3 separate regions of the Homo sapiens genome follow, and all the other regions are linked to region 3. The links come from fine-mapping of genetic effects on gene expression. A gene starts in region 3. Each other region holds a variant in brackets. All regions are shown on one strand. Distances are from middle to middle.

Region 1 (10,906 bases), 69 kb before region 3:
ATTTTAAAAATAGAGCACAAAAAAATAGAGCACAGGAAAAAATGTATGGGACACCACACCTGACAAATTAATGCTCATTGAGATGAAAGAACTTGTGTAATGGGGTGAAGAGAACACACATAATGTGTTTGATGTTTAGAGTGATATAGCAGGATGTGCAGACTCTGAAGGAAGACTGTGTACCATACAGCTCAAATATACGACTGTGATCTCAGAGGTTGTTTTCAAAGACAAGAATGGTAGATGTGTCACCATAGACATGTGAATTCATCTTAATACTTTGCATTGGGATTTATCCATTTAGCCATAGGTCCCAATTTTGACTAGAGCTTCTGCAGTCACTACCACAAACTGGCCACTACTGCTACCAGAAGCATTGTTTTGCACCAGAGATCAGCAAATTTTTCCATAAAGGTCTAAATATAATATTATTATATTACAAATATTTTAGGCTTTGTTAGATGTAATATCACTGTTTCAAATATCCAAATCTACCTTGTATTTGTGAAAGGAGCCATAGATAAAATTTGAATGATTGAACGTGGCTGTGTTCCAGTAAAAACTCTAATTACAAAATCAGGTGGCAGGCCAGATTCTACCCACAGGCTGACCCTAGTTTTATACTATCTATCCAATAGTTGGTCTTTGTATCTTATAGAGGCGGAATATGAATACGACATGTTGCCAATATGATGAGATGGTCTTTATCCCATGTCTTAGAGTTTAATGAGTTATACCACAACAGTTGCTTCATCTTCCAATATGAAAAGAAGCAAAACCTCAGGATCCACCCTACAGGAGTCCCTCCAACAGAATTATCATCAAGTGACACTATCTCCAGAGTTACGAATTTGAGATGAGAAGCAAACAGTAACAGAATTTGAAAAGAAGATTCTCAGTTTTCTTTGGGAACTAAAACTTGGTTGCTTTTAGAACCCAGGATACCTTTCTGAGGGTGATCCACAAACTCTGTCTACCTCTGCCGCCTTTTTATAAGTTTGGCACAATTTGAAAGTTTTATTCTACCAGCCTTTAAAAAGTTTTATTCTACCAGTTATTTGGAAGTTGTTTTAGAAGAGCGTTGGGGATGTTTGGTGGTCTTTGGACATAAGTTTCTCCATCCTATTTGTTAGGATGGACAACAAGCTCACTTTTTGCCGTGACTATTCTCTGTCTTATCTATAAGTGCGTGTGTGCGGGAGCACGTACACACACACACACACACACACACACACACACACACGCATGCGCTGAGGCAGCCAAACATCTTCATAGCTGCTTCCCTGATGTATATGCTTGCCTAGAACTTTTACTTGCCAGCTTACAGGACTAGTATCTTCAACATGATACTGAGTTTCATCAACAGAGAAGGGGACTGGGACACTTTTCGTTGGGCAGTTGCGGATTTCTGGTAGACTCACTGGCAAATTGAAGAGGAGTATGAGCACAGGTCTTTAAGTACAACATTATGTGTGGTAAAGTAGTACTGAAAGTTAAGAAATCGCATTGAATATTGGGAGTAGAGTGAGGGTCAACAGTGACAACTTAAAGGACTCTATGTTTCACTGTTGCTGAGGGAGGAATGATGACCTTGGGTAGATATTTATTCAAAGAAGAGTATTGTTTCTGATTAAAAAAAAGAGGGAGGTTGATAGACACAAAGAAGCAAGGAAAGAATGTGTTTTTATGACTAAGGGACATTATCAGTGTTTTAGAAACACTTTATGCATGGTTAATAAATTCGTTTGTCATATAAAACAGGCATTTTTGTGTATTTTGGACAGGCCCATCTAAGTCACAGGAACATTATTTTGTGTAAAAATTTACCAGAGTAACTAAGGTACTAGGGAAAATAGTTTGGTGCCTTAACAACTCCTTATCTGAGGAGTTGCCACAGAATTTTCTAAACATTCCCCCTATAGAAAGACTTCCAGAAAAGCTCAGTCAGTAAACCTTTCAGGCTCTCTCCCAAATATGTTCTGAATGTGTGCAGATTTTTACTGTCAGTTGCACCAAACTTATACCCATTGACCATATCTTGCCTGGGCTTTTGCAGTAGCGATTTGGCTCTACTCTTCCTTCCCCTGGCCAGTCCTGTCTCCACAGAGCAGCCAAAGGCTTTTTTTTTTTTTTTTCATTTATTTTTATTTTCATTAGACAGGGTCTCTGTCACCCAGGTTGGGGTACAGTAGCACAATCTTGGCTCACTGCAGTCTTGACTTCCCAGGCTCAAGTGATCCTCCAGCTCAGCCTCCTGAGTAGGGAGTAGCTGGGACTACAGGCACTCACTACCATGCCTGGCTAATTTTTGTGTTTTTTGTAGACACAGGATTTCGCCATGTTGCTCAGGCTAGTCTTGAACTCCTGAGCTCAAGTGATTCGTCTGCCTTGGCCTCCCAAAGTGCTTGGATTATAGGCATATGCCACTGCACCTGGCCCAAATAGGCCTTTTGAAAACACAAATTTGATCAAGTAATTTTTCTGCTTCACACCCTCCTATGGATTCCCATTTCCAATAGAATATAATCCTAACTCCTTGCTGGGCATAGTGCAGTACATGACCTGGCCTCTGCTCAACGCTCCAACTGCATCTTGTTCCTCTTTCCCCTCGGTGAGGATAACTCTCTTTCTCCAACTACACCAACCTTCTTATCAAATATGCCAAGCTTGTTTCCTTCCATCCTAAGGCTTTTGCATTTGCTGATCCCCACGCTTGAAGGGCTCTGTCTCTAGATATTCACGTATTTTTTCCTTCTTATGCTTTGAATTTCATTTCAAGCATTATTTCATCAAGGATCTTTCCAGTCCACTCCCAAGCCCATCATTCTGTTTGATTTTCTTCAGAGCACTTTTGCCTTCCTGAAATTATTTTGTTAAATTGTTTCGTAAAAGCCTTGGATGATCTTGACAGAAGATGAAAAAGTGAAACAAGGAGGTAGGTATGGGTGGGAGCCAGGCATGGGGCCAGGGTGCTTTTGAACATACGCAATGTGTCTATGTTTTCTTTTGAGAAAAGATGGGATATATAAACTACCATATGTTTTCTGTGGTTTGGTTCTTCACTGCTTTGAACATTCTAACAGTTTATACATATTTCAACAAAAGAAAGAGAAAGAACATGCATCTGTCTCCAAAATTATTTTAAGTCTCTTTCACATCTATTTGCTAACCTAATATCAACTACTGAGAGGCAGTATAGTGTAGTGGTCTGAAGCTGACTGAATCCCCATTCTTCTGCTTACCAGCTGTGAAATCTTGGGGATGATAAAGCCTATCTGTACCTGTGTCCTATCTGTAAAAGTGGGATAACAATAGTACTTATCTTAAACATTTGTTGAGAGGATTACATTAGTTAACAGCCCTGTGTTCCTAGAATGACCTGTGGCACATCATAAATATTCAACAACTGTTAACTCTAATTTTTACCAGAGAATAGAAAACAATCCTGCCGCTTGAAGCTTCTCAAGAGAAATGAAAGATTGAAATTTCCATTTCCACTCCAGATGAGGTGGCAGGAGTGATCAGGGCTCCTCCCCTTACTTTTGAAGCCATTCCCAGGTTTTGTCCATAGAGCTTCACTACTGGCAGATGTTTTTCTGTCTGTCCTTCAAACTACTTAAATAGTTGGAAATAGTGAAAGAAGTCTCATCATCAGCAACTGAGAAGCAGTACAAGTAACATCTGAGAAATTCTAAAAGGGATTTTAGAAAAAAATGTTCTGACTTGGTTACCAAGTGTTGCGCGTGCATGCACGCATACACACACACACAGACACACAGACACACAGACACACACACATTTTAAATATATCTACTCATTCAACCTAGCAAAAGAAAAGGATTCCCTCTTAATCTTAATTGTTGACTTATTTTCTTTCTTCCTTCAACCAGACAAAATCCATGAGTAGTAATTTAGACTCTTTTGCTTATAACAATATCTCTAGGACCTAGAAATATTTGGCATGGAGTAGGTGCTCAATAAATATTTCTTGAATGAAATAACAACATCAGCAACTCTTTGAGGTAGGTGCTATGATTATCCTGTGGTATATGTTTAAAAATGAGGTTAATTAACTTGTCCAAG[G/A]TAACAGCTACTCATGCTAGTGCTGGGTTCAGCTAGTGCTTTTAAACATTCCATAGCATTGCATCTTGTTTCTCCCTTTAAAATATCAATCCACTTAAGTCTTTAGTCCATCTGGAGTTAATTTTTGTATAAGGTGTAAGGAAGGGGTCCAGTTTCAATTTTCTGCATATGGCTAGCCAGTTCTCCCAGCACCATTTATTAAATAGGAAATCATTTCAGGTTTGTCAAAGGTCAGATGGTTGTAGATGTGCGGTCTTGTTTCTGAGATCTCTTTTCTGTTCCTTGGTCGATGTGTCTGTTTTTGTACCAGTACCATGCTGTTTTGGTTACTGTAGCCTTGTAGCATAGTTTGAAGTTTGGGTATCATGATGCCTGAAGCTTTGTTCTTTTTGCTTAGGATTATCTTGGCTATATGTGTCTATACTTGTCTTTTTGGTTCCATATGAATTTTGAAGTAGTTTTTTTTCAAATTCTGTGAAAAATGTTAATGATAGTTTAAGACTCAAATGTAAAACCCAAAACTATAAAAACCCTAGGGGAAAATCTAGGCAATATTATTCAGGAGATAGGCAAGGGTAAAGATTTCATGATTAAAATGTCATAAGAAATTGCAACAAAAGCAAAAATTGACAAATGAGATCTAATTAAACTAAAGAGCTTCTGCACAGCAAAAGAAACTATCATCCGAGTGAACAGACAACCTACAGAATGGGAGAAAATTTTTGCAATCTATGCATCTTACAAAGGTCTAATATCCAGACTCTACAAGGAACTTAAATTTACAAAAAAAAAAAAGCCATTAAAAAGTGACCCAAGGACATGAACAGACACTTCTCGAAAGAAGATGTTTATGCGGCCAACAAACATTTTAAAAAGTTCAACATCGCTGATCATTAGAGAAATGCAAATCAAAACCACATTGAGATATCATCTCATGCCAGTCATAATGGTGATTATTAAAAAGTCAAGAAACAACAGATGCTGGAGAGGTTGTGGACAAATAGGAATGCTTTTACACTGTTGGTGGGAATGTAAATTGGTTCAATTATTGTAGAAGACACGGTGATAATTCCTCAAAGATCTAGAACCAGAAATACTATTTGAGCCAGCAATCCCTTTAGTGGGTATATATCCAAACAAACATAAATCATTCTGTTATAAAGATATATGCATGTGTGTGTTCATTGCAGCACTATTCACAATAGCAAAGACATGGAATCAACCCAAATGCCCATCAGTGATAGACTGGATAAAGAAAATGTGGTATATATACACCATGTAATACTACACAGCCATGAAAAGGAATGAGATCATGTCCTTTGCAGGGACATGGATGGAGCTGGAAGCCATTATCCTCAGCAAACTAATGCAGGAACAGAAAACTAAACACCACATGTTTCTCACTAATAGTGGGAGCTGAACAATGAGAATACATGGACACAGGGAGGGGACCAACACAAACTTGAGCCTGTCAGGGAGCAGGGAGGGAGAGCATCAGGATAAATAGCTAATGCACGTGGGGCTTAATACCTAGGTGACGGGTTGATAGGTGCAGCAAATCATCATGGCACATTTTTACCTATGTAACAAACCTGCATGCCCTGCACATGTATCCTGGAATAGAAAATAAAATAAAATAAAATAAATAAATCCAACTATCTTATCCACTCCATTACAAATTACACCTGGATATGACCACCTAATTACTTTACATAGCCCCTAATCTTTTACTCATCCCATCCAGCTAGAAAGTTACTGATACAATAATCTGTAGACACTGGTTTTCGCATCTCAGTCTACTGTTCAAAAATGTCAGTGGCATCCCATAGAAATGAATATCCTTGTCCGCATCAACTCTGTTTTCAAGCTTATTCCCGTTTTGGTGTCATTTTTTCTTAGATATCCAGCTACACTGAAAGTTGAACTCATGCTCAAATATATGTGTGTCAGTTTACTCAATGAGTACATTAACATATTATATTTGATTTACAAGACACTTGTTAAAGGTGCCTTAATCACGAAAGAAAAAATCTGAGAAAATTGAGGCTCAGCAAAGTTTAGTGCCATTAACTGAGGTTTTTCAACAGGGTATTGGAGCCAAAGCCACGTAAGAGTTAACTGTTTGAAAAAACAACCACCAAAAAAAAAAAAAAAAAAAAAAAGCAAGGAGGAGCCTCTGGTTCCAAGTGAGTACAGTAATCTTAGAACCTGTTCCCAAGATTATAACCTGCTTTATGCAACCATCAGAGCCAAAGAAACTTAACCAAAGGTTTAAAACTTACATAAACAAAGATTCTTTTATTTACAACTCTGCTTCTCTGATGAACAAGAAGCTGCAGCTTACACGTTTGAGGTGCCTTATTCATACTGGCTACTCAATATGTAATTTTTTAAAAAATCTGTTGGTCTTACAGTATGGAAGCAAAAATGAATGGTGATGTTGGTGAATGCTAAGGTAAAAGTCCTTCATTTATTTGGGTTGTTGTGGGTTGCAATTTAGTCATTTGTACTTGGAAAAATATAAGGAGATTTAATGCTTAGTTATAAGTATAAGATTCTTTGGGTTTTCTAATTATCTTGTTTATACATTCCTGACAGCAATGACAATTGTATTTAATGCAGGATTTGTTTTGTGCGGTAGTAATAATATTGTTTGTTTATGCATGCACAGATACAGATTTACATTTTGAGTTTTCAAATATGTAGTTACAAGTGGCTTGGAGCGTTAGAAGTACATTTAAATGATTCCGGATAATGTTGTTTTCCTCCTGCCTTGTCATTGGCCTGGAAAGTCCCTTTTTGTTTATCCAGTTCTTCCACAACCATCGTTCAAATTCTGATCAAGCCCCGTGTTCTTCACATGTCTCTCTCTCTCTGGAAATCTCAGAACATTAGTTGTCTATAACATACATATCTACACACTTAACACTCACATATACACATTCTACTGGAGTTTTCTTTTAAAATTCAAAAATGAGAACATTATTTTTTCAAAGCTAAGTAACAGAAGAGTATATAAAAAAGTCAATTTTGGGCGTATCTTTTTACATTTCTTTCTATGCTCATGTAAAACATACATGATTTATGTAATTATACACATATGCTCCCCCACAACCCTTAGTCACAAATACAGGATCATCATTACCTACATATGTGGACTTGTTGCTGTAATCATTTAACTATGAACTATGGACATCCCTCTAGGTCAGCATGTATATCTAAATCATGGTTAGTCCCTAAATCCTTAGATAAGAATATCTATTTCTGCAGAATGGATTTCCAAAAGTGGAATGCCAGAAACATTGTGTACTGCAATATGCAATCCCATCACTTCTCCACCCCATTCCATTGTATGTGATAAATCTTTCAAAAAATTTTTAATTAACTGTATGCAAAAATAAGGGTATTGTGCTACTTTTCAATCGCATTTCCTTAAATACCAGTGAGATTTAGCATCTTTTATAAAAAGATTATAATAATTTTTGTCTATTTGCATTTTCCTCTCTTATAAACCCCAGTTCATACAATTTACCCATGTTTGCTTTTTCTTTTCAATTTGCAGAAGTTCTCTATTTTACATTAGGGTTATAAAGCTCACCTCTCATATACGTTTCAAACATGTTCTCTATTTTTTAAAAACTTATTTATGGTACTTTTTGCCTTTGTATAAATCTGTACTATTAAAGAAGTAGACTCCACAATTTTTTTCCATTATAGTTTCTTGGTTTTTTTTTTTTGTCTTTTTTAAAAAAGTTTTTCTTTAACCTAACATTACTCTTATTTTTCACATAATTTTTACATTTTATTTTAACATTAAAATCCCTAATCCATTGCTCTTTTTCATCTTTAAACATGGATTATGCAGGAATATTACTATTTTCTTGCTGAATGAAGATCTAATTATAATTATAAAATCATTTACTAAAGAAGCTATACTTTCTCTGCTGAGCTATTATATATTTATTATGTATATGTATATTTCTGCTGAAGTGTTTATCATATAATACATTTTCATTTATATTTATATTGGATACAGTTATAAACTCAGTTTTGTACAGTAACTAGTACATTTTTTGTGGTCATAACATGTTATTGTAATCCAATTAATATCACAGAAGGCTTTAGTATCCTATGTCAGGTACCGATCATCTTTTTCAATATTTTTAGGTAAATCTTACATATTTATTCTTCCATATAAAATTTTAAGTCAAACAAAAAAGTAGAAATAAACAAAATATAAAATGATTAAAATTAAAAATCATTTAAAATTATAAAGGAAAATCCAAATAAAAATTAGTATCTCAATAAAATTATGATTAAAATTGCATTACATATTTATACTTATTTAGGAAAGATAAAGGTTTTAATAATATTATGGAGGTTTTTTGGTCCAGTAAGCATGATAATTTTTCTTAATTCATGCAAGATGACCTTCAATATAAAATTTTGTATTCTTCTTCATACAGTTGCACATTTTTGTTAAAGTTTTCTGGGGTACTTTATTGTTCGATTGTTATTGTGAATGATATTTTATTTTTATTTTAATTTTTGTATTATACTGCCAGCATAAAGAAAAGCCTTTGGTTTTATATATTTTGTATCATGTTGCTGTATCAAATTCTTTTATTAATTACAATATAGGAACTTTTTTGTGATTTACAAGTATTAGTAATTGTCTATAATTAAATATATTTTGTTTTTAATTTACTGTATTTATGTATTATTTTCATTTTCTCATTTTCTTGTATTAGCTAATGCAAGAAATACCACAACAGTGATGAATAATAATGATATTAGCTGGGAACCTTTATTTGTTCCTGATTTTTTTTTTGTCTTTTTTTTTATTATTATACTTTAAGTTTTAGGGTACATGTGCACATTGTGCAGGTTAGTTACATATGTATACATGTGCCATGCTGGTGAGCTGCACCCACTAACTTGTCATCTAGCATTAGGTATATCTCCCGATGCTATCCCTCCCCCCTCCCCCCACCCCACAACAGTCCCCAGAGTGTGATATTCCCCTTCCTGTGTCCATGTGATCTCATTGTTCAATTCCCACCTATGAGTGAGAATATACGGTGTTTGGTTTTTTGTTCTTGCGATAGTTTACTGAGAATGATGATTTCCAATTTCATCCATGTCCCTACAAAGGACATGAACTCATCATTTTTTATGGCTGCATAGTATTCCATGGTGTATATGTGCCACATTTTCTTAATCCAGTCTATCATTGTTGGACATTTGGGTTGGTTCCAAGTCTTTGCTATTGTGAATAGAGCCGCAATAAACATACATGTGCATGTGTCTTTATAGCAGCATGATTTATAGTCGTTTGGGTATATACCCAGTAATGGGATGGCTGGGTCAAATGGTATTTCTAGTTCTAGATCCCTGAGGAATCGCCACACTGACTTCCACAATGGTTGAACTAGTTTACAGTCCCACCAACAGTGTAAAAGTGTTCCTATTTCTCCACATCCTCTCCAGCATCTGTTGCTTCCTGACTTTTTAATGATTGCCATTCTAACTGGTGTGAGATGGTATCTCATTGTGGTTTTGATTTGCATTTCTCTGATGGCCAGTGATGATGAGCATTTTTTCACGTGTTTTTTAGCTGCATAAATGTCTTCTTTTGAGAAGTGTCTGTTCATGTCCTTCGCCCACTTTTTGATGGGGTTGTTTGTTTTTTTCTTGTAAATTTGTTTGAGCCCATTGTAGATTCTGGATATTAGCCCTTTGTCAGATGAGTAGGTTGCGAAAATTTCCTCCCATTTTGTAGGTTGCCTGTTCACTCTGATGGTAGTTTCTTTCGCTGTGCAGAAGCTCTTTAGTTTAATTAGATCCCATTTGTCAATTTTGTCTTTTGTTGCCATTGCTTTTGGTGTTTTAGACATGAAGTCCTTGCCAATGCCTATGTCCTGAATGGTAATGCCTAGCTTTTCTTCTAGGGTTTTTATGGTTTTAGGTCTAACGTTTAAGTCTTTAATCCATCTTGAATTGATTTTTGTATAAGGTGTAAGGAAGGGATCCAGTTTCAGCTTTCTACATATGGCTAGCCAGTTTTCCCAGCACCATTTATTAAATAGGGAATCCTTTCCCCATTGCTTGTTTTCCTCAGGTTTGTCAAAGATCAGATAGTTGTAGATATGTGGCGTTATTTCTGAGGGCTCTGTTTTGTTCCATTGATCTATATCTCTGTTTTGGTACCAGTACCATGCTGTTTTGGTTACTGTAGCCTTGTAGTATAGTTTGAAGTCAGGTAGTGTGATGCCTCCAGCTTTGTTCTTTTGGCTTAGGATTGACTTGGCGATGCGGGCTCTTTTTTGGTTCCATATGAACTTTAAAGTAGTTTTTTCCAATTCTGTGAAGAAAGTCATTGGTAGCTTGATGGGGATGGCATTGAATCTGTAAATTACCTTGGGCAGTATGGCCATTTTCACGATATTGATTCTTCCTACCCATGAGCATGGAATGTTCTTCCATTTGTTTGTATCCTCTTTTATTTCCTTGAGCAGTGGTTTGTAGTTCTCCTTGAAGAGGTCCTTCACATCCCTTGTAAGTTGGATTCCTAGGTATTTTATTCTCTTTGAAGCAATTGTGAATGGGAGTTCACTCATGATTTGGCTCTCTGTTTGTCTGTTGTTGGTGTATAAGAATGCTTGTGATTTTTGTACATTGATTTTGTATCCTGAGACTTTGCTGAAGTTGCTTATCAGCTTAAGGAGATTTTGGGCTGAGATGATGGGGTTTTCTAGATATACAATCATGTCATCTGCAAACAGGGACAATTTGACTTCCTCTTTTCCTAATTGAATACCCT
Region 2 (10,906 bases), 40 kb after region 3:
AATGTTTATGTTGACACTGGATTTGTGAACACAGGTAATTCAATAAAATCTATTTGTACAGTGTCTAGACTATACAAAGCATCTCAGGTATGTTATCATATATAATCATGGCCTTACTTGACCTTCAATTTGATAAATGATCTCTACTTTAAAAGTGAGAAACTCTAGTGGAGGAATTTAAATAACTTTTAAAATATTCCAAACCAGAAAGCAGTAGTGCAAAATAAAATGCTAATCTGACACAGAATCACATGCTATTTCTAGTGCACTTCAACTATATTTCTTGGTTTTACAAAATTTAAGCATGTAGGTTTGAATTTATTTCAATTAAGCAATCATTTGTTGATGATGAAATAGAACTTTAAGCAATCATTTGTTGATGATGAAATAGAACTTGTAGCTGTTTAGTTAATACCTGCTTTTAAATCCCTTACATGATAGACAGATAACCAGCCTAATTTATTACTAGACAATATTACAACACCACATATTATTAGAAAAATTTTATCAGTGTCTGAATTATAAGCCAATTTTATAGTTGGTTGGGACCCGATAATTCTAATTTTAATAATTTTCTATAGTTCATACAGAAAATACTGACTTAAGCTAATAACAGTGTGTGTATTTTTTTACAGATGATCTGATCATAACTCCCACTGACACTCGTTGGGTCGGTGCATGGTGGTTTGGCTTTCTGATTTGTGCAGGAGTTAACGTGCTCACTGCCATTCCTTTTTTCTTTTTGCCCAACACACTTCCAAAGGAAGGACTAGAGACTAATGCTGACATCATTAAAAATGAAAATGAAGACAAACAAAAAGAAGAGGTCAAGAAGGAAAAATATGGAATCACTAAAGGCAAATATACATATTCTAAATACTATGAAATTGACCTTTTATTTCATATAGATATGTCTGTATTTTAGTCTAACACTATGATATGCTATGCTGTGTTGAGACAATTTGTCATCAACAGTCACCAGTCAAGAATACCTAACTAGTCCGATTCTTCCTATGGTACTACTTGAAAATAAATATTATAATTTGGAAGCTGAAATATTTCAGATCAGCATTTGTGTAAACTTTTATGTCAGTCTTGGCACTCTCCTCTCTCTCTCTCTTTCATATATATATACACACACATATATATGTACACACACATATATATATACACACATATATACACATATATATGTACACACACATATATCTACACACATATATACACATATATATGTACACACACACATATATATATGAGAGAGAGGAGAGAGAGGGTCATGTATATATATACACACACGTATATATATATATACACGTATATATATATACACACACGTATATATATATACACGTATATATATACACATATATGTGTGTGTATATGTGTGTGTGTATATATATACGTGTGTGTGTATATATATATATATATATACACACGTATATATATGGTCCCATTTGCTCAAAAAACCGATTTTACAGAGAACATAGGTTGAATTGAAACAAAATGAACAAGCAAATTTAAACTAAGAACAAAAGTAGGAAAAAGTATACTCTAATCTTAATAGGTAGTATAGTTTTGTAACCAGTGTGTTAGTTTAACGAAGAGCTTCCTGGAAGTTAAATCAGAAAGAAAAAAAAAAACATGATCGGTGACCCACCTCTCTATACTTGGTAGAGGGAAGAATAATAATTTTTAAACAGAAGCAGTTCTCCAAGGAAGAAATTGTAAAAAAATTTAAAAATGATCATAAGATACATGATACAGGTAATATTGAGCCACATAGTGGTTTTCCAGCAAATGAAAGGGTAAATTGCATGTAACATTTTTTTTGGTACAGAACCTCAATAAAAGCTCAAAGTATAATTTACAGAAGGTTTTTCTGTGGGAAACTAAACTAAGATAGCCTAAGTATTTAGTACTCAAGAGCACTGATGCTCAAACTTGGCTGCACATTGGAATCACCTAGGAAATTTTAAAAATGATTGATGCCTGAAAGTTCTGTAGTATTCCCAAAAGGTCAGATTTAATTAGTGTGGATGTGCAGCCTGGCTATTGGAACTTAAAAATGTTTATTTGACGGATGGTGAGGGTCTCAGTTTTCTGTCAAATGGGGATAATAATAGTACTTACTATAGAATTGTTGTGTGAAGGTAAAAGACATTCTAGCACACATTATTATTAATACTGATACTAGTGTTAGTACTTTTATGTTGTCATTGTTGTTTCTATCATCACCCATAAGTTACAATGTCAATTTGCATAGAATTTTTCTTAACAATTGTAAATTCTCTTAAATCATAATTGAGCATAATTTAATACATCTTTGGTCATTAGGAGCCAACTCAGAATCTTGCAAATTCTCAGAATCATTCTGATGATATTAAAAACTCTTCTTAAAGGATTGTTATGGACTGATAGACCTCTTGCAGTCTGCAAGATCAGTTCCATTTTCAAAATTAGGAAAGAGCTTAGCTTGTTGCAAGACATAGAAAAGAAACTTGTGCTACTGAAACTCATCTATTAGGACAGGGATGTCAACAAACATGGGTGACTTAAAAATCTTCAGATAACTCTCTCTCCTGTCAGGTACCCTATTCATAAATATAAATTTTACAATTATAACTCATTTACTTGCATTAATCTGTGTGTCCTCCTCTTCTAAATTGTTTATTTATTGAAATTTTGTTCCAGAATGAATTGTGAGCAGTTTATTAAGCAAACCAAGATTGTGCATAAGAAAGTCAAGACAGAGAACATGTGGACAGGAAAAGTGAAAGGAAATTAAAAGTGAGAACTTGAGCCTGAATGGTAGCAGTGTGACCAAGAACATTTACTAGAAGCAGGCCACACATTACTAGAGGCAGGCCACACATTACTAGAAGCAGGCCAAACATTACTAGAGGCAGGCCACACATTTGGCTCTGTGCTTTTTCTAACAGGAATCATTTTTGATTAAATCATTTACATAGTCCTTAGAATGTACCAAATGAATCAGCATCTCTGAGGATGGGACCTGGATGTTGGTATTTTAAAAAATATCTCCAGGTAGATCTTGCTGAGAACCAATGGCAGAACCACTGAAACTGTTGTTCTGAAGAAGCAAAAAAAAATTCCGGATACTTGAGAACATTCATATCTCATTAATTCCCACACATCTTTATTTCAAATGTTCAGGGAGTGATAAAATAAATATTTGTGTGAAATCTTCTTTATCAACTCGATTTTCCTCCAGACTTTACAGAACAGAACAAGCATCTTTCATTCTAATGAGCTGTAGAAAAAAGAATATATTAATAGAAGAACAAAAGGTTAGTAATAAAATGCTGTGGACGTAGACAATATTTTGGTCACTTTGTAGTTTTGCTTACTGATCTTTAAGACTCAACAGTGACTTATTGAGGGCAAAACTGTTGTGTTCTGATCCCTACCCAGTCAGCTACATCACTGACTTCCAGAAGCCACCAAAACATTGCTATGACTTCAGCTTTCAAGGGGAAAAAAGAATTAGCAAACAATACATATTACAAAATAGTAAAAAACATAATTTGTTGAGGAGGTGGATGTTTCAGGAAAAGCCAGTCACAAAATGCAAAGCCAAGTTCGTTTGACACAGTTGTCATTCTTTCATTTCAGATTTTCTACCTTTCATGAAAAGTCTTTCCTGCAATCCAATTTATATGCTTTTCATACTTGTAAGTGTGATACAGTTCAATGCATTCGTTAACATGATCTCCTTCATGCCTAAATACCTAGAACAGCAATATGGAATATCATCTTCAGATGCAATCTTTCTAATGGGTATGTTTGTTTTTCTCTGCCTTACTAGCACACTTTCCCCCCCACGAACAGTGTGATGGCGGGTGTAGCAAACTCCTAAGTTGAAGTGTTTTAGGATATTTTTTGACTCTGGTGGATTTCTTCCTTCTAATCTCAAGAAAGAAAGAAAGAAAGAGAAAGAAAGAAAGAAAGAAGGAAGGAAAGAAGGAAGGAAAGAAGGAAAGAAAGAAAGGGTAGGGAAGGGAAGAGGTCAGAAATACCTTGATTTTCTTCTCTCTGAAGTCAGAATGTGAATTCATAATATGAATGCAAATATTTGGGAGTGCAAAAATTACATATTTTCAGATAGGATTGTGCATTTTACTACCAAATTTTACTCTTTTTGGTTCCAGTTCAAGGATTCTATGTTCCTCCTAATTTAATTTTTTGGTCCCCCTAGTGGTTTTAGGTGTCTCTGCAGCCACACACATTCGGCTTTTCCTGCAACCACACTAACCTCAGTGGTTTTAGCCTAACTTGGGTTTTTCCTGGGATCTTTCCACTGTTTTTAAAAGTCAATATCCCAGGCTACTTGTATCCACACTACCTAAAGTGCTTGTGAAAGCTTCAAATACCTGGGGTTCCCCCTCAGACACACTGAATCAGACTCTAGGGCGTGGGGCTCTGGAATGGATTTTTAACAAGCTCTCTCAATAATATGATTCGGGGAGCCAGATGCTCACATTGTATAGATGGAACCTAGGGCTATCTTCTCCTTTTTCTATTCTTTTTTTTCACTTATTGGGAAGGGTTCAGAGAGGAAGAGCCAGTAGCAGCAAGACATGAAATGTAAATACACTTGACAGCAACAGGCTCAGCAAAGTGACTCTCTAAAGTACCTTGAACTGGGTGTGGTGGCTCATGCCTTTAATTCCAGCACTTTGGGATGCTGAGGAGTGAGGATCACTTGAGGCCAGGAGTTCAAGACCAGCCTGGACAACATAGCAAGACTTTGTCTCTGCAATTTTTGTTTTTAAATTAGCCAGGTGTGGTGTTGTGCACCTGTAGTCCCAGCTACTTAGAGGGCTGAGGTGGGAGCATCTCTTAAGCCCAGGAAGCTGAGGCTCCAGTCAGCTATGATCATATCACTGCACTCCAGCCTGGGCAATAAAGCAAGATTCTGTCTCTAAAAAAAGAAAAGAAAAAGCACTTTGAGAGGAGTCTAATTCTTCACAACCAAAGTGAGGATAGGTAACTGAAAAATTGTATATATATATTCTCACTACACAGAATAGAGGGTAATAAATGAATAAATTACTGGCCAATTTTGACTTGCCACTTCTACCTGGATCCTAAGAAAAGAGATTTTTATCATGATCTCTGCCTATAAGAAATTCACAAGCTACTGCAATGAGTTAAATGAATGATAATATAATAACAAGAGTCTCCCAAAATATACTTCCCCATTATGGGGGCATTTCAAAATCTCCCTGTGGGTAATGTGTAACTAAGTGGGGATAAAATTAAATCATTCTTCTTCACTATGAGTTGGACCTAAATAGTTACTTATATAAGGCATATTACATAAAAGTGATAACATATTTGTTCCTTTGGTAAGTCATTTTGTAAATAATATTTTATTTGCATTTATAGGTATTTATAACTTACCTCCAATATGTATTGGATATATAATTGGTGGTTTAATTATGAAGAAGTTCAAGATTACTGTCAAACAAGCTGCCCACATAGGATGTTGGTTATCCTTACTTGAGTATCTTCTCTATTTTTTATCTTTTCTCATGACTTGTGAAAATTCTTCAGTTGTTGGAATAAATACCTCTTATGAAGGGTATGTTGTTTTCTAATGAATGTGAGAATCTTTCAACAAATGGTTAATATGATATTTTTTACAATGGCAATGCACGATCAGATCATTTTCTTATTGGAGTTAATGATAGTAATCCATGCTTTTCCTGTATCTTTCCTCCATCTGTCAATCAAGCCAATCTATCCAAGCTCTAGGCTTATTAATGAGGTTGGGAACATATCACAGGGTGAGTGAATTTATGATTGTATGTGCATGTGGGTGTGTGTGCATGATTGT[CTTTGTG/G]ATATCCGAGTAGACATTATCCTATGAAAGAAACTACCTACAGTTTCAGGTTGTATTAAAATATGTTATCCATATATCTTATACTCCCATAACTGAGTAAAACTAAGAGTTGATTATACAGTCAAAATGGCCTTTATATGTTTCCCCAATGGGCTTAAGTTTGGCATAACTAAATCATAATACATGATAAATTAATTAATACATAATTCATATATTTCATTTATATTGCTATGTCTAAAATATTGAATCATTTCATATTTTGTATTTTAAAGGTTATCTGGGTTTTACTGAAATGTTTTCCATAGTGATGTACATTAAAAGAATTCACCTGTAGGGCGTATTTTGACAATCAAGCTATCAGTTAAAATGAAATAAAGAACATCCTAAAATGTTTTTTCAAAATTATCAAGGTTTATTAGATTGAAATAATTTCAAATGTAAAATAGTAATATAATTTTACATATGCTATTTGATTTGAGACTCATGAGCTTCATCTAAGATAAGCATTATTATCTCCACTTTACAGATTAAATTGAGATTCAGAGAAATTTAATGATAAAAGCAGTTCATTTCAAATCTCTTCAACTACATCAATATAGAAATGGATTTTAAAATTGGAATAAATTTTAAAGATTGCCTCCATCTCCAATGATGCTGATTCCCAGACAGAATGTGTAGAAAGTCGCACTGTGATCTAGTCTGAATGCAGTCTCTAAACTGCTATGCAAGTGCTCTTTCAATCATATTACAAGCACTGGTCACTTTTTATATTAGTAGAATGCACTTCTTTAATTCAAATACCTATGTTTCTGGAGCTAAATGTATTATCTATATTACAAATGGAACTTTCAGATTTTTATCTTCATGCTAGTCCTGTCTTGCTATTTGCTACCTAATGGATGAATCACAGAGATTAGTTCATCTTCATCTTTCGAGATCTAATAGTATGTGAAAACATGACTCCACATGGTAGGTGCTCAATTAATGCTTGTTTATTGCCTATATATTCTTCTGAGATAAATCATTGAAGGAGTGGCTATGTGGTCATCAAAGCAGGTCTCTTTTATACCAAAGCTATAGTAAACAGGTCACACATTGATGACTGGAAAATTTCTCTTTCTATTCATGGGAGGAGAGGAAATCTAACTGGGGATTGAGATGAAAAGAAGAAAAAAAGGATTGAATCCTCTTTTAATATCTATGGCATTATTTTAAATCACTTCAGAATTCCACAAGATTTATATGTGGAAAATGACATCTTTGCTGATTGCAATGTGGATTGCAACTGTCCATCTAAAATATGGGATCCTGTGTGTGGAAACAATGGCTTGTCATATCTGTCAGCTTGTCTTGCTGGTTGTGAGACATCCATTGGAACGGGAATAAACATGGTAAGACATCCTATTTGACAGAACTTTTTTGAGTTGCATTGGTACTTCCCAACTATGAACTGGGCCTATATTTAATAAAAGTAAAATTAGTGTTTCCTCAAAACCATATTACTTTTTTTGTATGTGGAAAAATAACTCTATGATGGTCACTTGATTACCTTTTATTTCCCAGATCTTATGTGAAACCTCCATAGCATCTGACCAGTGATCTGAAATTTCCAAGAAGTTTATATTATTACTCAAATAATTTGGGTTGTAAATACTCTGGACTAAAAAAATTTTATCATTGAAATAAAGTTGGTGGTTTTGATTTCAATTGTCCAGCTAATTGCTTTGCTATATATATATACATATATATATACACACATATATATATATTTTTCTGTGTATATGTATGGATGTGCTTTCTGTGTTTTTCACATTCTGACAGTTCTTTGAGAATTTAGAATTAGGAATGTTCTCTTGCCTCTAAGATATCACAATATAATATAACATCAATTGTAATATTAATATAACGTTGGTTGGTGATCAAAGTAAACTATAAATTTTGATTCTTATTAAGACCTGGAAACATGTAACAATTCAAAAAAGGTTGACAATTCTTTTTTTGAAAGAAACTATTTCTTTTCTTTTCTTTTTTTTGAGATGGAGTCTCACTCTGTCGCCTAAGCTGGAGTGCAGTGGCATGATCTCGGCTCACTGCAACCTCCACCTCCCAGGTATAAACGATTCTCCTGCCTCAGCCTCCTGAGTAGCTAGGATGACAGGCACATGCCACCATGCCCGGGTAATTTTTGTATTTTTAGTAGAGACGGGATTTCACCATGTTGGTCAGGCTGGTCTCGAACTCCTGACCTTGTGATCCGCCTGCCTTGGCCCCCCAAAGTGCTGGGATTACAGGCGTAAGCCACTGCGCCCTGCTGAAATAAACTATTCCTTTGAAGCAAAGCTTTATTTGTAAGCATCTAAATATTTCAGTTGAGCACTCTGAAACAGATTTTGTTTGTCCAATGTAGTGTTGTATCAAAACACTGTTTTAAAAAGTGTATTAGCTGGGCGCGGTGTCTCACACCTAGGAATCCCAGCACTTTGGAAGGCAGAGACCGGTGGATCATCTGAGGTCAGGAGTTCGAGACCAGTTGGCCAACATGGTGAAATCCATCTCTGCTAAAAATACAAAATGTAGCTGGGAATGGTGGCAGGCGCCTGTAGTCCCAGCTACCCCAGAGGCTAGGGCAGGAGAATCACTTGAACCTGGGAGGCAGAGGTTGTAGTGAGCCGAGATCGCACCACTGCACTCCAGCCTGGGCGACAGGGTGAGTCTCTGTTTCAAAAAAATAAATAAATAAATAAAATAATAAAAAAGTGTGTCTTTAGGGTAACTTATTAGTTATTACAAATTTACTATTCATATTTAGAAAAATATACCGTTTTTCTGAAATCACCCTTCCAGTTTTGTTATATGGTGTAATCTTGAGAGACATCATAATGGAGATGGAGTAAAGGGAACAAGCAGTCTCCATCTTGATCCAACTGGCTGTGTAGAAAATGTTTAAAATTTGTGTTCAAGATTTTTACTTCTTAGTATAATATGTTATTTTTTGGCAGGTGTTCCAAAATTGCAGCTGTATTCAAACATCAGGAAATTCATCTGCAGTTCTTGGGCTGTGCGACAAAGGACCTGACTGTTCCTTGATGCTCCAGTACTTCCTAATCTTGTCAGCGATGAGCAGTTTCATTTATTCTTTGGCTGCCATACCTGGATATATGGTTCTCTTGAGGTACAAAATTATTTTCTTTATTTATATTTTTTTGGGGTCATTTATTAAGGTAGCTTGTTCTAAGAAAGTCACTCAGGACTCAGTATCTAAGAACTCAGTGCTCTAACGTACCATTTATTAAGGGTTTTGTATTAAGCATTGTTGGATTTCACAAAATTTTAAAGTTAGCAATGCACATGTTCATCTGCTGGCATTTCACTCCTATTCCTCGCTACTTTTCTTCCTTATTTCTTAGAGTTAAATGAGTGGACCTCTCATTTTGTGACAAAAGAGACACATTTATATCTTAGGGTAGGCCGTATAAAATGGCCATTTTGATAGGTAAAGAGTGGGTGCCTAGCAGCCATTTCCTAGGGTTCAACCTATAGGACAGCAGTGCAAAGCTGTCAGAAGCCCCCATCTCGCTAAGGTCACTTGATCTTTCTGAGCTCCATTTTTCTTTAATAATAATGGGCATAATAATAAATACTTGGCTCTCTTACAAGGCTACTGTGAGACATCAATGCTGAAAGACTTTCTAAAACTAGGAAATTGCAGAGCCAGTTTTCAAATTTAGGTATATTAAATAAATCTTCTTTCAACTACACCAGTCTTTGTGCCTAGTAAACAATCCTGAACATAATTTGCATTTTTTCTCTCTTTTTCTTCTTCTTTTGGAGCTCTAAAGTAGAGTTCAGTTAATCACAATGCTCAAGTCATAACACATTATCATCATAGGCCAGTGCAAGGATTCTCTCTTATTTTACTTCATTTATTTATTTATTTCTATTCAATTCCCTACTTCCAGTCACCATAGCTGCTCACTTAAGTATGACAGATAGATGTCTTAAATATGTATTTCCTTTGTAAAATATTAGAATTTTTTGTGTGCATCTGTTTTTATATTCACAACAATGGTGGTGTGGTGTTAAGTCTTGTTCCGATTCATAAGGTAGATGCATAGATAAATTCACCAGTCCTATTTAGAGTAATTTTTATATCATCACTGCATGAGAGTTAGAATTATCTAACTTTGTGATGTTGACTAATCCAATGGGTGTAAAATACTAATGATAGCTCATTGATGTGTCAATATGTGATGTCCTGATACACTGAGCTTAAGCATCTCTTCAAATAACTTTGTAGCTAAAAGTTATTCATGATGCTTATTCAATTTATTTTACCCACTTTACTCATTATATTTCCTGCATCCTATGTTTTTCTTGATGAATTTGATGATTACTATGTAAATTACAGATATTAATGTAATACTGTTTATATGATACAATTATCTTCACTTAGTCTGTCTTCTTTCTTTTAACTTTTACAGTGCCATTTATGAAATGAAATCCTAAATTTTGTTGTACTAAAATCTAACAAGTTTCTTACCTTAGTGTTTGTGTATTTGGAAGAGAAGTCACATTTTTAAAATTGCTTCCACATTTCTAACTTATAAAAATATTCCCTTAAATTTTATTCCCCCCTGGCTTTCCCGCTTTACCTTTTGCATAGTTTTTTAAGCCATCTCAAATCTATTTTTATATGTGGTTTAAGGGACATAGATATCCAGTGTTATTTTTCTCCGAATAATAAAGTTGTTTTCCAAAATCATAGTGTATATAATACGTCCTTTTTCCTTTGATTTGTGGTGCCACCATCTCAAGTTTTTATAATTAGTGAGTCTATTTTTCATCCTTATTCTGCTCCACAGATTTATTTGCCTGTTCCCATACCAGCGTCACCTTGATTTAATTACTTTGGCCTTGCAAATGTTAATATCTCATATGGTAACTTTGCCTCACCCACCTGCCATCTTCACTTTTCCTTTATTCTTTCTTTCTCAAACTTATTTTGCTGTCTGTGGATCTTTATATCTTCATAAGAAT
Region 3 (10,906 bases):
ACAGAAATAACCACTTTTAAAATTCTGGTTTAGGTCCTCCAGTGTTTTATCTAAATGAATACATCAATAGGCATACCCACACCCACACACACCTGTGGAGAGGTAGCTTAGGGTAGTTACGATTCTCTAGGGCCAGACTTCCTGAGTCTGAATCCTGGCTCTGCCACTTATAAGGTGTGTGACTTTGTACAAGTTACTTGACCTCTCTGTGCTTTAATTTTTACATCTTTAAAGTTGGGAATAATACTTATGTCATAAGATTTTAGGAGAATTAAATGGGTTGATATCTGCAATGCCCCTAGAACAGTGCTTGGAATATGGAAAGCAGTATATATTGTTTATATTTTTATTATTATCTCTAATTGTATATAGTTTTACAAAAAGCAACATCACATTGTATGTTATATTAAAGCTTGTGTCTTTCCAACTTGGTGCTAGCCCTTTAGCTGCCTCTTCATCCTTTTCTTATATGTTGGGGTCTTTGAAAGTGCTTAGTAAATACCACCTTTCTTTCTCCATCTTAATTGTAAATCATTTTAAACCCGAGACAGACAAGTATTGCACGTGGAGTCCAAAGTGTCAATTTTACCACTAGGCAAGCTCATAGTAGGAAATGTGGCTTAAATTAGAGGATCCAATGGCAAGTGGATTTCCTCATAGTGAAACTCCAAATAGAAGGACTTTCCATGTGGTCACTGGATTACGTCAGTGTTACCCACATGAGTGACTGGGGTATGGAGAGGAAAGGCGTGCTGTGCTAATGGAGCTAAATATATGCGGAGGCAAATACTAAAAATGAGAAACAATATTAATCTTTTCCTTTTCTCTTTTTCTTCTTCCAACGTGGAAACATTTTACTATTCATTTTTATATGCCTTACAAAATTATGTACTGTTTGTAATCTGGCTGCTGAAGCATTGGTAACAAAGCAATGGTAACAAATACGGTGTATGTATCATCAAGTCAGTCCTTGGACATTTTCCCCACACACATAACCTAAATAAGCAAACTGTATATATTTTGCTATGTGAAGACTTGGTGACTATGACTGTGTTTACATGATGCAACAGTGATTAGTTAATGTATGCAGGTTGGTTAAAAATCAGTTGATTTGACAACAACATTTTGTTTTATTTGGTATGACATAGAAATTGCAATGCCTGCATATGTAAAGTGGGGAGCTGACCAATTATGCACATTGTAAATCTCCTGAATTTTTTTCTTACTGAGAATCAGAAGAGCATTGAGGACTGAAATTATGTTGTTAAATATGAATAGCGACCCTTCATTCAATGTTGATTGCATGCTAATTTTATATTATATGTTTATATACCATACATCTTTCATCTAACTCTATTGCAATGATTATGGTTGTGTTGGTCATTTGTTTATCTGGCCTCACACCCATTCTCTCCTATCCTCTGATCCTCTCTGTATCCCAAGAGAATAACTCCTGCAAACTAAGTTTTCCACTCCAATGCCACCTGACTTCCTTTTATGTATGTCAGTGGGAAGTACTGGTGTGAGACTGGGGTTGTGGAGAAGGGGAAAGCAAGGTATTTCTGCCTCTCACAGCTTCCTGCATGTCAGCCCTTCCCTTTTCTGATATAGCCTTTGGAGTGGGAGTGACTTTCCACTGCTGTAAATCTCTGAGTTGCCCACAATCCCACAATTTTTTTTAGCTCTTCTTATATCATTATAACTAGTTTTCCATATAATATCCCTCTATTAAATTATCTATTATGAGTTCTATTTTCCTATCAGGACCTTGACAAAGATAGAGACTGTCTTCATTTTGTAGAAATATTAAGTAACTTGTACAAAAACACACGGCTAGTTTAAAAACAGGCTTTCAAACCAGTTGTACCTAATTTCAAAGCCCAAGTATTTGAACTACTATGCTGCAATCAAGTGATCGTTCAAATGAATACCCAAATGAATAGTTTTCATTAATCACCTCTTTCTATTACTTAGCTCAAATTGTCTGCATTATGGCACTAACTAGCTATCATCATCACTTAACTATCTATCTCTCCCAATTGTTTATAAGGTCACTTGAGAGCAGGCACATTTTATTCATCTTTGTATCCCCAGTACCTACTACTGTGCTTGGAATGTAGTGGATTCTTAATAAATATTTGTAGAATAAATGAGTAGTAATCACTGTCATTGACAGAGTGACTATTTTATTTCAGCAGCCCTGCAAGGAGTCTTATGTAAATTTTATAACTCAATCTTCATGACAATCTTGCAAAGTAGTCATAAATATTTCAATATCAGAGATGAGGAATAGGCTCAAAGAGTTTAAACAGCTCACAATTAATCTGCTATTAATGCTAGGCTAAGTGGATTACAAGGTCTGCTATTTTGACTATGTCTAGCTGCCTCCCTACATAAATTTATGTGAAAAATACATAAATAAATGTGTTGGAAAAAACTCAAATCATTTTATTGAATTTTCAGGTTTTTTTTTGAGCCTTATAAACAGATAAAGTCTTGTCTCTATGAGAAAAAGGAGCAGCTCAGTGTTTACATGCCATATATTGGCACGTAATGGAAATACATATGTTTGTACTTACCTAGTCTACGCAGATAAAAGGAAAATAAGAATTGGGATAATAATCTGAAGAAATGACATAGTTGATATTGCTGCCAAACTAAAATCAGAGCTGGACAGTAAAGTGGTAAAAGATTTCATTAAGGGACTACTGCGATAGGAGAAAAGAGACCTCAGTGTAGTACTGGGCTCAATTCCGAATATAGCTTGGACAGATGGAGATTTTTAGCCAAGCAGCAGGGTGGGGGCCAGGGGATGGAAAATTACTAAGAGGAAACATCGGGAGTAAGGAGGGATTGTGGCTAAACCAATGTGACAGGATTTTTACTGACTGAAGGCCAGGATGATCAGATATCGCCTGGGGGGTTCCGGGGGATGTAGAATTTGATCAACTATCAAGATGATCAGATATCAAGAGTGAGGGATTCTCTCCAAACAGACTTAGCAAGATTCTCACTACAATTAGGCAGTAGAGGGTTGGACACCAAGACTGAGGCCTAGAGCACATAGAGGAGTCAGAACTAGACTTAGGTAAAGGAGTTCATCCTGTTATCAAGTGTGGAAAATGCTGGTTAGCCACATGATTATCTACTCATTCTCTAGAATTACTTGGTATGGTGTGTGACATTGATGATATTTACAACCAATTCCCCTAAACACAGAATTCAGGTTTCAACTTTACTTTTCTGTTGCTTGGTCTATTATCTAGAGTTAGTACATTATCTAAAGTGATAGGGTAGGTATTTTTACTGATGGATTGTTGATGAAAGTGTTTACTTGTGTTTTTGTGAGTTCCAGTCTTTGCTTTGCATGGTGAAATCACATGTATGGATAACATTTTATGGCTCAGTTAAGTTTCTGCCATAGTTTTTCCAAGCAATACATTCTTAGTACCTCCTCTGAATCTAGAAAGTAAAATAATACTTATATTTATAAGACTGAATTGCAGAATTTATTATTTTATTCTTTAGTTTCTGGTGAAAATGAACCAATAGAAGTAAAATAATTTGGTAGACAAAATACAAAAAGCCATTGTTGATTCTACATGTAATTCATTGGCACATACTTGCTTGGATTAGTATTGGTTGAAATTGTTTCAGCTGGATACCACCCAAGAGGCTGTTCTTGTCTCACAGAGCTAGGAGCCATTTCAAGATCCTGGAAATAAGTGATTTTCATAAGATTTTTGCTAGTGTAAATTTTTTTTTTCCCTAGGGAAAGGATGATCTCCTAAGTCTTCTTCATGTATGTACTACTAGCTTTGCTGTAAAGTAAGGCCTTTATTTCATTAATTTGAGAGTAGAGAATAATGTAAAATTAAACACAAGCATTTTTTCCCAGTTGATTTCTAACAATCACAAACTATATTAATTTGTTTAATACTGCAAGAGCACAAACAAGATTTGTTTTATATTTGTTTCATAAAACTTTGTATTATTGTTTTATAAAACTTTGTATTATCTTGTGATTGAGACACATCATTAGGGGCTGGAAGCCAACAGGTGTCAAAAGCCCCAGTGTTGCTGTTCAATGGATATAGAATTACAGTCATGCAAGATGAACAAGTTCCAGAGATCTACTACATAACAATGTGTATATAGTTAACAATTCTGTACTGTGCACTTAAAAATGTAAGAGAGTAGAGTTCCTCTTATTTGTGTGTTTTTTAAAATCCCAATCAAACAGAAAAACAACACAACACAGAGCTATGACCAGCAGGCATGGAAGAAATCCAACGTTTGTGTGAGAAAGCATACTGAAGCATTACCTGTTCCCATTTGAATGCTGAGAAAGAGTTAGGGAAATAACATGATTCTCCACTTAATAAAACTTCAGCATGTCTTTTTCATTAGAAGTGATGATTGACAGGGATTTGTTGGTGACACTGTGTGGTCCTGGGAGCAGAAGTCACTGTGTAAACAACACTGTGCTAACAAAAGAGGACTGTTCACATGGCTGGCACTAGCACAGCCTCGAGAAGATGAAAAGACGGCACACGGAATTTCCTGATTTGGGGCCAAGATGGACAACAATGACTATGATATTAACCGTTGGATTTTATGGATTTTTATTGAATAAATGGAATAGATTTTGTTAATTTGTTTATTTTCCTCCATGAAGATGTTTGAAATGTATCTGAAAATATAAAATATTTTCATCATATAAGTTGGAAAACTAGGGAAAGTTTAGGGTTAATTTAATCCCATGTAATTCTTTTCAAGTGCTTAGCCTTAAATATTACCTCTTACTTCAGTTAAGATAATAGTTTTTTAACCCCTTTTTTCAATATGTTAAAACATTTTGAAGCAAATCTTCCAGACATAGTGAAAAAACCTGCTCTAGATGGTTACTTAGTGTCACAATTCATGGAGGGAACTATATAGAATTCCCCTATATGGTGATTTTCTGTGGCACTACCTCCAGCTTTTATGCCCTCTGGCTATATATGAAAAAATAGACATTTAATATAGTAATGTTTTTAGCCACAAAGAAGAGTGAAGGCAATTTTGACGTGGGAGAAGAATAAGTTCTCTCCCTTAGTGTTTGATACGGTGACTATATTGGGCTAAGATAATGGTTAGGAGAGAGAGAAGAGAAAAGGGGAGAGAGATTGGGTTCTAAATGCACGAGAAGAAAGAAATGAGGGCAGTTCAGAACAATAACCTGTGAATTTTTTCACCACTTACATACCAAGCAAATTGCATTTCCTTCTACACTGTCTGGTTCTATTCCAATGTGTTTTATTTAAAAGTTTTATCTTTCCCAATGAAAGTTTAAGTTCCTTGGAATCTGGGTCCAAGTATCTTCCACAGAAACATACTTCTCTCGCTAGTTTATACTCTCTGTAGGCACGTACTTGGCTTTCTTGCTCACTGCTGAATGCTGGTGCGTAGCACCATGACTGGCACAGAGTAGATGTTCAATAAGTATTTGTTGTATCTGTGAGAGAATGTGTTAAAATAACAAAACTCAAACATAATAGTGCAGCGACTATGCCTTGATGTGTGTGTGTTTGGGATTCAGCACATTTGTAGAGGTAAAGCAGTTGGTTTTTTAAAAAATTAGTGCCATTCAGGATCACTTGTTAAATGGATATTGTTTAAAGGACTTAATTAATTAATGCTGGGGATACTGTTAAGAAATCATTCTAGAAACTAGAATAAATATTGCCAAAGTGAAACACTTTGGTTTTGATACAAATTATTGCCTTAGTTTCAAGATGTAAAACAAACAAAATCTTTGATGGGATTAGTAGAATTTATTTGAGTTTAATTCAACTTTTTGTTTTACATATAAAAATGTGTGCCTGTATGTTATACATCTGTACATATATTTCCACATATATCTATACCTATTACGTATAGCTACATATAGATACCCATTTATATGTTTAATCTCCTAAGTCTTACATCTTAGTTTGCAATCGTGGGATTATTTTCCAGATCATAGAATTGTTTGTTATTTTTACTAGGTTGTTTTCATGATTAAAATTCCGTGTCTCCCCAGGTTTCCATGTATCAGCAGTGCCCCAGAAAGTGTTTCCCTTCCTGAGACTCTAGGGAAGCCTTGGAATGCAAATAACTTGAAAAGAGAGCCTGGCCAAAAAAAGATTTTTGAGCCTTGGTAGGGTTAGTGAAGCAGGTTTTTAGTACAAACACAACTCAAAGTATGTGTGTTATTAAAAGTAGCTATTTTCATGGAAGTCTTTTGGTACTATTTGTTTTGGCTAGAGAAGTGAAAAGCTTTCTTTTAACCATGTGACCATTATTTTGCAAGATCATAACAAACAATTCTAATATCTTTAATCTCACTAAAGAGTCACTAAAGTTATTTGATGTACCTTTTGAAATAGAAAACCAACAACTAAATCTTCTCTAACACCATGATTTTCTAATCTGTATTAAAGCGTTCCAGGTATTTTTGTAATGCAATGGATTTCAATTATGTTGTTCATTTTCAGCACTTACTTCAAAAGAATGATGCTTTACAATTTTGTAGTTAATTTAACATATTTTTTTGTTTGCTTGAAAGGGTAGAAGTAAGACATATCAAGATTTAAAACATAAATAGCTTGGAACACCCTGAAGAGCAACATGGGAGAAACTGAGAAAAGAATTGAAACCCATAGAATAAGATGTCTTTCCAAGTTGAAGGTATGGAATTTTTGTATGTGGATATATGTGCATGTACACTAGTTTTTAAAATACGACAGTCCTGGTAAAATTGCTCCTATCTGCATGAAGTGATCTAATATTAATGCCATATTGCCTGTTCTATTGATAATTTCTTGCTTTAAAGAAGTTGGTTTTATAACTGAGGGTGTGTCTACACAGGATTATTGATTCAGGCAAGTTAGTCCTAAATGGCTTTGAGAGACTTAAATGGAAGACAGGATCCTAAAAATTTCCAGGCACACATACTGTGGCAGGATTTATTTTTCTGGATCAAAGGCCATGCTCACTCTTGCAGGGTTTCTAACCCAGAGAAATGTGGGAGTCACTCTCCGAAAATGGCTCATTGCACAGAAATGCTTTGTTGATTTGTATGCAATTACCCAGCAAAACAAATGTTTTCTTTAAGCTTTGGCAACATAACAATAATTTCCTGTAAGAAAAATGGCCATTTTGTCAGCTGTTCTGATTTTTTTTTCTATTTCAGAGAAAATTCTGTTTTCTAGCTTCAAAGTCATTTATATTCAAACAAATTTGAATTTATGATAAACCAAGGGATCTGGACATTTGTCCTGATTCTATAGCTAGTGCCTGCAAGTGGTTTCAAAACTAAGACACTGTCACTCATTTTCTCCCTATCAGAAGTTTGTTTTCCATTTATATGTGTGTTGGGGAAATTTAAACATGTATACAAAATTGGAGAATTATGATATAAATCTAAAAAAAATAGACTTGCCTGAAATGGTATGTTAATTAAGAAAAACTTTTTGTGCTTCAGTTTTCTCATCTGAAAAGGGTAATAGCAACATTCCCACCTTATAGGATTCTTTTATGTTTGAAACAATGACTGGAATATTGTAAACTTTCAATAAATATTAGCTATTAATATTAAAAGCATTTGTGGAGAAAAGTCAAGTGGTATTTATAAACAAGAGGTCTTTAATTTTTGATTGCTTTGGAGTTTAGCAAGGTTAGATATTAATGTGGATGTTAAGACAAAATGCTGTAAGCACAAGTTTATCAGGTAAAAGTGAGAGGCAATTGCTTAATAGCAAGTTAGGTTTCTCTGTTTCTCTGAACTTAGAAATATACTCATTAAGCAAAATTCATTAGGAAGCATGAAAGAACTATTTTTAACAAATTTGCTTTAAACTTTGTTGTTGAAATAAGTTGAAAGGGCATTATTGCTAGAAGCTAGTAGGACCAGCTTTATAAATACAGAGATTATTTAGCACTAGACATGAGTCAGAATAGCCACTGATTTCTTTCACTCTGCGAATAAAACCAAACTAGTTAGGCAACCCATGTGTTTTAGGGGAAAAGCAATGAGGTCATGATCCATCTAATTTCTTTTCTTAACATGTAAAGTAGAATAAATTATTTTTCCAAATTTGATTTGTACTTGATTTAGTAGGACTTGCTTTTAAATATAAAATCTGATTTATAAAACTAGGTGAAAATAGTTTGCTCTTAAGAATACACTCTGAGAAGGTTTATAGTGGGAAGAGAGAATATCCACAAATGGTATTCAATATAAAAAATAGCTAGAGATATGGCCATACTATGCTGTAGTCAATCAGTTTTGATTCATATTAAGAATGCTATTCAAATTTCTAGGTCCTTTTCACATAAATTTCTATTTAGGTCTCACAAAAATAATTGATAAATTTTGGCTTAGATGTATTGTGTGGTGTGAATGTGTCCCATCCAAATTCCCATGTTGAAATCCTAATTTCTAAGGTGATGGCAGTAGGAAGTGGGGCCTTCGAGAGGTGATTAGGTCACAAAGGTAAAGCCTTTATGAATGGGTTCAGTGGCTTTATAATAGAGGACTAAGAGAGATTCACTGCATTTTCTGCCATGTGAAGACACAGTGAGAAAGATGGTAGTTTATGAATCAGTATATACAGCCTCTAAGCCACAAATAAAATTCAACCCTCCCACCCCCTGCTCCCAGCACTGAATGGACCTCCTCTTGGTCAAGAGCCTTCCAAAGTTAGTCTAAAAAACAAGTTTAGGCTGTTATGGGAAGGAGGTGTTGGACATGCCTCTTTATACCCTCCTCTCTTTTGGAATTCAGGAATAACCAACCATCATTAACATCAACACAGACCTTAAGTCTGATAAGAAACATTTATATCCATTCTCTATGAAGCCTGCGTATCTAGAGGCTTTATCTGCATGATAAAACCTTGGTCTCCACAAGCCCTGATTGTAAACAGGAAATAATTTTTTATTATTGATAATAACTCTTCCAACCAATTGCCAATCAGAACATTTTAAAATCTACCTGTGACCTGCAAGTTCCTGCTTTGAGTTATCTTGACCTTCCCAATTGAACCAATGTAAATCTTACATGTATTGATTGATGCATTATGTCTTCCTAAAATATATAAGAGCAAGCTGTACTCCACCTTGAACACATGTTTTTAGGACTTCTCTGAGGCTATACTGTAGGCATGCCTTAACTTTGGCAAAATAAACTTTCTAAATTGATTGAGACCTGTCTCAGATACTTTTGGGTTCACAAATTAGCAGCCATGAAAGGATTCTGAGTGGAGGTGCCCCTGACCTTTGATGAATCTCCTGTGGGTACTTGGTACCAGCCTGAGCTATCCTTATGGCTCAAACTGATAGGACAATTTGCTGAGGCCTGGGAGCCCCCACCCACTCCAGAGAATCCCCAATCCCCTAAATTTGGTTAAGATCTAAAATTTATTTTTCTCTACAACTCCTATTTTTTAGTTTTACTTGTGTCCAACAAAGAAGGCAAGTTTTCCTGCTTCCATGACAATGGAGCGTGGGCAACTCCTTTCTGGAGTTTCAGCTAATTTCCAACAGGGAAGGCAAGTTTGAGCTTTTTTTTTCCTGCCTGTAAGATGGTAAACAGCAGTCTTGAGCCAGGGTCTCATTCCTAGATAAGTAGCTGAGTTGGGTTTTTTTTTTTATCTCAGCGATTCTCCTTAATGACTAAAAATTAGAATTGACAGCCGGCTAGTCTTAATTTCTCCTTAGCATTAGAGTGCTCAGTAATCATATTGTTGGGGTTTTTTGTTGTTCTGGTGTTTCTCCCATCAGATTTGACCAACTGTACCCAACTTGGCCAAATTCAAATGAGAATTCCAAATTATGAGCAGCCAGACCTCTGAAGCTGCTAAAATTCCTCATAACTGAAAAAAAGAAAACAAACAAATTATGCGCTTGGTTTCTGTTGCAGCTTCCTGTCTTAAAAACACAATTGTTCTTTCATTTTCTTTTCTTCCACACTATTTCTCCTTCCCCCTTCACTGTCTGGTACCAAAAAAAATCTAGAGAAGCCATCAAATGACTTGAACCCCTTAAAACACTCAGAACAAAGGCATCACTCACCCTTTCTTTCTCTGTGGAGTTTCAAGAGTCATGGGCAGATTCTTCTTAAGGTCTAAAGTGTTCTTATTCAAAGGTAAATTATTTTTGTCTAATTCAGAGGTTATTTAAGGATTATATATAAAATGAGGTAAAAAGGACCAGGAAATAAGAGATGTAAAGAAAGTTATAAAGAGGTATTTTTGGTAAGAAAGCTTAAAAGAAAAGTAATTTTATATGAGAAAGAATCTTGCATGATGAATTTTTGTCCTAAGATAAAATGACTCGTTCAAGAAAGAGAAATATTTATGTCAAACCAGAAAGTCCAAGCATGTTGTAAATGGTCTGTGTAAGTTGTAATAAGGTTAGTAAAACAGGAATTTGTTAAAATGTTATGTGATTCAGTTGGCTACAATTAAAGGAAATTATAATAGTTTTTCTAAAAATTGAACTTTGATATTAAAAGTACACTCATGCAACACTAAAGAACTGGTTAGAACAAGATTTATTAAAAATGTTGAGTTACTCTTAATGCAAGGACTTTAAAATTTTTGAATTCTATAATCTTTTTCTTTTTAAAATTATTTAGATTGATATCTCAGAACCTGTGCCCTACTGCTTCAGTTTTTTTCTCTTTTGAGAAGGCCTGGAATGGTAACTCTCTCCTTCAACTTTGTTTGGCTCCTGTAACTTTTTACTTTTATTTTATTTTTTTTGAGGCAGGGCCTCACTCTGTCACCCAGGCTGGAGTGCAGTGGCACAATCTCAGTTCACTGCACCCTCAACCTCCCAGGCTCAAGAAATCCTCCCCTCAGCCTTCTGAGTAGCTGGA

What was found. PIP is the estimated chance that this variant, and not a neighbour inherited with it, causes the effect.
Region 1: its variant is fine-mapped to the expression of SLCO1A2 in testis (GTEx, PIP above 0.99).
Region 2: its variant is fine-mapped to the expression of SLCO1A2 in lung (TOPMed, PIP above 0.99).

What each region holds. Positions count from the first base shown.
Region 1 is chr12:21,399,051-21,409,956 of GRCh38, reverse strand. It overlaps a transcript of SLCO1A2 not described here. Among named protein-coding and RNA genes, the nearest start is that of IAPP, 32 kb to the right of the region's middle. The variant G/A (reference allele first, on the strand shown) is at 4,084.
Region 2 is chr12:21,290,299-21,301,204 of GRCh38, reverse strand. It overlaps SLCO1A2 (solute carrier organic anion transporter family member 1A2), which reads left to right. Exons shown (of 15, transcript NM_001386879.1): 7 at 1-34; 8 at 636-857; 9 at 3,637-3,801; 10 at 5,413-5,608; 11 at 7,095-7,260; 12 at 8,869-9,041. Among named protein-coding and RNA genes, the nearest start is that of SLCO1A2, 39 kb to the left of the region's middle. The variant CTTTGTG/G (reference allele first, on the strand shown) is at 5,864.
Region 3 is chr12:21,330,393-21,341,298 of GRCh38, reverse strand. It overlaps SLCO1A2 (solute carrier organic anion transporter family member 1A2), which reads left to right and starts at 6,382. Exons shown (of 15, transcript NM_001386879.1): 1 at 6,382-6,472; 2 at 6,590-6,711. The coding sequence starts at 6,652. RefSeq lists an enhancer at 1,887-2,393.